Regions from separate parts of the Homo sapiens genome. Here region 1 is linked to region 2. Evidence: fine-mapped expression QTL. A gene starts in region 2. The other region holds a variant in brackets. All regions are shown on one strand. Distances are from middle to middle. Region 1 holds the start of SAPCD2 (suppressor APC domain containing 2). Region 2 holds the start of DPP7 (dipeptidyl peptidase 7).

Region 1 (2,887 bases), 44 kb after region 2:
TGCAGGGACCCCAGGCCTGGCACTGGCGGTGAGGGGTGTGCTGGAAGCAGGGTAGGTGTGGGGATGGGGGGGCGGGGGCTTGCGTGTTGTGCTGGTTTGTTTTGTTTTGTTTTGTTTTTGAGACAAGATCTCGCTCTGTCACCCAGGATGGAGAGCAGTGGCTCAATCACAGCTCACTGCAGCCTCAACCTCTTGGGTTCAAGGGATCCTCCCACCTCAGCCTCCCAAATACCTGGGACCACAGGCATGCACCACCACGCCTGGCTAATTTTTTAAACTTTTTGTAGAAATAGGGTTGCCTTATGTTGCCCAGGCTGGTCTTGAACTCCCCAGCTCAAGTGATCCTCCCGCCTCGGCCTCGTGCTGGGTTTTTGAGCAGACCAGCCATTAAAGGGGAAGCTGGCTTACAGGACCAAGCTCTGATGGGCTGCTCCAGGCTCAGAGCTTCTTATGTCCTTCCAGCATTCCCTACGATGAAGGAGTCCCACTTAGAGTGAGTGACCCAGAAGAGAAGTGGACCCAGGATACTCCCTGGCCTGGGAAGATGCCTCTACAGCTTGAGACACAGGCACCAGTGGCTCAGGCCTGAGGACAGAGACCCAGGTAGGTATGCCAGCTGAGGCCTGCCCAGGAGGGAGGGTGGGAGACCCGCAGAGGGCCAAGGCAAGTCTCGGATTGGGGGCCTGTCTGGGGAGGGTGTTTGCACCCTGAACACCTCCCTGGAACCTAGAGGGTACTACTGGCCAGCCCTGAGATGGGCTCCCAGGGCTAGAACCCAGGCTAAGGCCTGGTCTCACCTCCCATGTGGACAGACCAAATGAAGACAGAGTGACCAGATCCCAGCTGGAAACACAGCAGAGGCAGGGGGACAGGGCTGCGGGAGCCAGGAGAGCAGCTGGAGGAGGTGTCCAGCCAGGGGAAGGAGGAGAGGAGAGCAAGAGGCAGAGGGAGCTGGTCACTAGATGGGGATCTGGGGACACAGGAGAAAGTGGCTTTGTTCTGCAGCAGGCAGGCCAGGCCAGACTGTCCCGAGGGACCAGAGGAGGAGCCAGCAGCAGTGGGGACAGAAAGGCCTCTGTGAGTGGGAAGCGCCCAGCTGGCTGGAGCCTACGATCCTCTTGGGGCCCTCCTGGTGGAAGAGAAGGGGGCCGCAGGGTCACCTGTGCTTGCGGCCAGGGAACTAGAGGGGAAAAGTGGGATCTTTGGAGGGGGTGCCCCCCCCC[A/CA]TTCTTACCCCACGAGGCTACCTGGAGACAGGTTTTTTTGTAGGGTGCCAGGCCCCGCCCCTTGGAGAGGTGGCCGGGGCAGCCAGCCACAGCTGGATCCGAGAAAGCGCCTGGCCGCGGCAGGAGGTTTGGTGGGGCTGGGGCGGGGCAGAAAGGAAGGTCTGCGAGGCCAGAGTGGAGCAGGAGCTGGGGGATCCGGTTCCGCCTGCCCAGGGCCTCCGCGCGCCTCCCAGGGCCACTCGGCAAGAAAAAAAAAAAAAAAATCAAACCTCCTCTCAGCCTATCAGAGAGCAGATGGGACGGGCTCGGCCAATGGCCGCGGCGCATGTTAATGAGGGCTGACGCCGCGAGGAGGGCCCCATTCAAAAGTAGTCGCTATTGTCGCCGTGGGCTGAGCTCGCCGGGCCGGCCCCTCCGTGGGGCCGCGCTGGGACGCACGCGGGTGGACGAGGGGACCGATCCCGGGCGCCCATGGCCGGGGCCGCCATGGCCGAGCGGGGCCGCGTGCCTCCCCCCGCACCCGCGCCCAGCACGGAGGGGCTGCCGCGCGCCTTCCTGCAGAGCCTGCGCACCCTGTTCGACATCCTGGACGACCGGCGGCGCGGCTGCGTGCACCTGCGCGAGATCGAGTCCCGCTGGCAGGGCACCGACGCGCGGGAGCTGCCCCGCGGGGTGCTGGAGGGCTTGCGCCAGGTGGCCCCGGCCAGCGGCTACCTGACCTTCGAGCGCTTCGTGGCCGGCCTGCGCACCTCCCTGCTGAGCGCCGACGGCGGCCCCCGGGACCCCACGCGCGCCCCGGCCCGGCCCGGGGATCAGCCGCCGCCGCCGCCGCAGCGCCTGGTGTTCGCTCCGGCCGACGAGCCGCGGACGGTCCTGGAGAGGAAGCCCCTGCCCCTGGGCGTGCGCGCCCCTCTGGCCGGTCCCAGCGCCGCCGCCCGCAGCCCGGAGCAGCTGTGCGCCCCGGCTGAGGCGGCGCCCTGCCCCGCGGAGCCCGAGCGGTCCCAGAGCGCGGCGCTGGAACCGAGCTCCAGCGCGGACGCAGGTGAGTTCCGGACGGCCCCCGGGCACCCTCGTAGCTCTCCCGGGCCCGGGCCAGAAACCGCAGTCCCACAGCTGCTGCCCGTGCATTTCCCACAAGGGACGGGACCGGGGAGCGGCTCTTCGTGGACTCCGGATCCTGGAGGGCGCCTCGGCGGGTCTGGAGGGAAAGGGCTTCATGCTTGTCGCGGTGAGCCCAGGGGCTTGCTTAGGGAGGCAAGCCAGACCCTCTCCTGCCACAGCATAAGGCCACCAGGGCCGGGGGGTGGCAGGTGACTCAGAAAACCCACCGGGAGCCCAACCTGTACCAAGCCTGAGCTTGGGCTCTCCATCTCCAATACCCTTTCCGCACCTGGGGACACCTGGGCCCTCAGCCTCCTGTCTGTGGCTGCTCAGGCAGAAGTGCTTCCTTCTCAAAGAAAGGGTCCCCCTTCTCAGTGTGACAGCTTAGCCAGGGGGGCTGGGCCCACTGACCCCACTGAGGCCTAGGCAGGCGGGGGCTGCTGCTGGTGGCCCAAGAGGACCTGGCCCTGTTGCCAAGATGGGCAGGGGCGTGGGTGGATCTCCTGCACCCCAGTGGGGCTGTACTATGGCAGATGCCATGGAGGGACATAGGCCGTAGTCCC
Region 2 (2,887 bases):
GGTTACAGGTTACCAGCACAGGCCTAGATGCCTTAAACCTTGATTCCATACAGCATATGTTTCTGTGGGCACAGGGATGTGGGCAGGGGACTGTGGCCACCCTCACCCCTGGCAGAGCCATGCTGGGTAGCCCCATGCCCACCCTTCCCGGCTTGGGAGGCCCTGGCTGCTGCCCAGAGGGGCATCAATGCCTGGGCCGTGGACAAGAGGGAAAGTGGCTTCCTTGGAAACCCTGCTCCTGGAGCCCTCCCTGAGGCTCTGGCCCCTCTGTGGGCCCAGCCAAGCCTGGAGCGTCTCCAGGCTCTGGTGTGCTTGGGGAGCTGGCCAGCTCTCGGCCTAGCTGGCGTCTCCAGAGCTGCGGTCCTGGGTGAGGGTTGCTGGTGGAGTTCTGGCCACCTAAGGCACCCGAGGGAGCCAAAGGAGCAGAGGTGTGGGGTGGGGGACGCCGTGGGGTACCTCCACATCCAAGGAGGTCTGCTGTTTGTCCTCACCCCCGTCCTGCGGGGGCCCCGGCAGGCAGCCCCAGGAACTGCGTAGGGATGGGACAGGGCCCAGATGTGAGGGCCGTGGTGGGGACGGTGTGTGGCCCTGGATGACCTCGTGTTGCAGTGTGACGTGATGGTCACTGCCACCATGCTGAGGGCCCCAGCCACCAGTCACCCACCATGGGGGGTGCCTCTGTGTGAGGCACGGGAGGGCCATGGCGTGAGGGGCTGTGGAAGTGGCCGGTCTTCTCCGCTCAGCCCCACACAGGATGGGCAGGGCAGGGTCATGCTGGCCGAGGGTAGTCTTGGGAGAAGGACAGGGTAACTCTCTGTAGCTGAGCCCCTGCTGCCCCTGCACCTGTTCTGGGCCTGGCTAGCGGCCCATGTACATCCCCAGCAGGACTCCACGTAGCTAGTCTGGCACCCACCACTACGGCCCCCTCACCCACTCCCTGAACTGGACGCTGGGGAAAGGTGACTTCTTCCATCCTCTGGGTGCTCCCCAGGGAGGAGGCCCCAGCTCCCAGCAGAGGCCTCTGGTCCCCCCTTGTCCCTGCAGGGCTGTGTGGGCACACTGGGTGCCAGTCGGAAGGGCAGGTGGCGATTCCCAGCTCTTGGGAGCTACCCGGCCACATCCCGGCCCTGCCCAGACGCTCCAGGGGCACCCCACACTCCTGCCCGCTGCGAGGCCCCGCCCCGCCAAGCCCAGCCCGTTATCGCTTGGACAAACCCTGGGTTGCTTTCTTCGGGGGGCCAGCACTCTGTTTGGGACCCTCTCCCTCCCGCCCTTAGGGCAGCAGAACGGCCCCCACTCTCCCGGCCCTGCCTTGGAGTGGGGCACCTGCCAGGAGCAAGTGCTGGGGAGGCTTGGCGGGCGCAGCAGGGACTCGCCCTAGCGCAGCTCCGGATGGGGCCGCGGTAGGAGGACGAGCCAGTGGGGCGGGAGGCCGCGGAGATGGCCCGGGGGCCCTCTGCTTCCCCGCGCCGTGCCCGGGAAGGACCCCTGGGCAGCGGCCGCGGGGCGCGGGGTGTTGGGGGGCACAGCCCCGGCGCGGCGCTGAAGCAGCGACGGTCTCCGTGGGGACCGCGGGCGCCCGAAACACGTGGGGCCTGGAGGGAGGAGCGCGCCCTGGCGGCCCCGTGACCCCGCCCACGTGACGGGCGCCCGCGGAAGGCGACATGGGCTCCGCTCCCTGGGCCCCGGTCCTGCTGCTGGCGCTCGGGCTGCGCGGCCTCCAGGCGGGGGGTGAGTGGCGGCGCCCCCCGGCCCATTCCCCGGTCCCGGCCCCGCCTCTGAGGTTCGCGTCCCCCCACAGCCCGCAGGGCCCCGGACCCCGGCTTCCAGGAGCGCTTCTTCCAGCAGCGTCTGGACCACTTCAACTTCGAGCGCTTCGGCAACAAGACCTTCCCTCAGCGCTTCCTGGTGTCGGGTGAGACCCCGGCCCCGGCCCGGCCGCCCCCGCCGTCCCGCCGCCCCCCGGCACCCTCGCCTCATCCGCCCTCCCCACAGACAGGTTCTGGGTCCGGGGCGAGGGGCCCATCTTCTTCTACACTGGGAACGAGGGCGACGTGTGGGCCTTCGCCAACAACTCGGCCTTCGTCGCGGAGCTGGCGGCCGAGCGGGGGGCTCTACTGGTCTTCGCGGAGCACGTGGGTGCCGGGCGGGGTCGCGGGCGGGGTCGCGGGGCACGTGGGTGCCGGGCGGGGTCGCGGGCGGGGGTCGCGGGGCACGCGGGTGCCGGGCGGGGTCGCGGGCGGGGGTCGCGGGGCACGCGGGTGCCGGGCGGGGTCGCGGGCGGGGGTCGCGGGGCACGCGGGTGCCGGGCGGGGTCGCGGGGCCGGGCTCAATGGCACGTTCCCCCAGCGCTACTACGGGAAGTCGCTGCCGTTCGGTGCGCAGTCCACGCAGCGCGGGCACACGGAGCTGCTGACGGTGGAGCAGGCCCTGGCCGACTTCGCAGAGCTGCTCCGCGCGCTACGACGCGACCTCGGGGCCCAGGATGCCCCCGCCATCGCCTTCGGTGGAAGGTGGGCGCCTCCCCCGGCCTCCGCACCCCCTCCCTCCCCTGCCCCGACCCAGCGCCCCCAGCCCTTCTCCCCACTCCCCTCTGACTCCCACCGCTGCCTTTTCGTAAGGCCTCAGGCAGTGGTTCCAGGCTTAGTGTTGCCTCCCCCAGGAAGCCCTCCCACCTGTCCTCCCAGCCACCTGCTCAGCTTGGATGTGCGGCCACACTAGCGGCCTTTCCCAGTGAGAGCTGCACCCGCACCTGGCCCAGGGTTGGAATTTGTGGGTCTCAGAAGTGTCGTCCTCCTTGTGGCACCTGTGGGCCCCTGAGGAGGAAAAGAGGAAATGGGGTGTTGGGGGCAGCAGCCCTAACCCTGTGTCCCTCACCCAGTTATGG

The links.
Region 1: its variant is fine-mapped to the expression of DPP7 in whole blood (INTERVAL, PIP above 0.99).

The regions. Positions count from the first base shown.
Region 1 is chr9:137,069,268-137,072,154 of GRCh38, reverse strand. SAPCD2 (suppressor APC domain containing 2) reads left to right here and starts at 1,598. Exons shown (of 6, transcript NM_178448.4): 1 at 1,598-2,265. The coding sequence starts at 1,695. RefSeq lists an enhancer at 457-1,436 and silencers at 1,541-1,950, 2,121-2,170, 2,221-2,270. The variant A/CA (reference allele first, on the strand shown) is at 1,224.
Region 2 is chr9:137,113,491-137,116,377 of GRCh38, reverse strand. It overlaps DPP7 (dipeptidyl peptidase 7), which reads left to right and starts at 1,645. Exons shown (of 13, transcript NM_013379.3): 1 at 1,645-1,731; 2 at 1,802-1,915; 3 at 1,996-2,135; 4 at 2,350-2,513; 5 at 2,882-2,887. The coding sequence starts at 1,665. LOC124902314 (a long non-coding RNA gene) reads right to left here and starts at 1,579. Exons shown (of 2, transcript XR_007061874.1): 1 at 1-1,579. RefSeq lists silencers at 1,420-1,769, 1,800-1,949.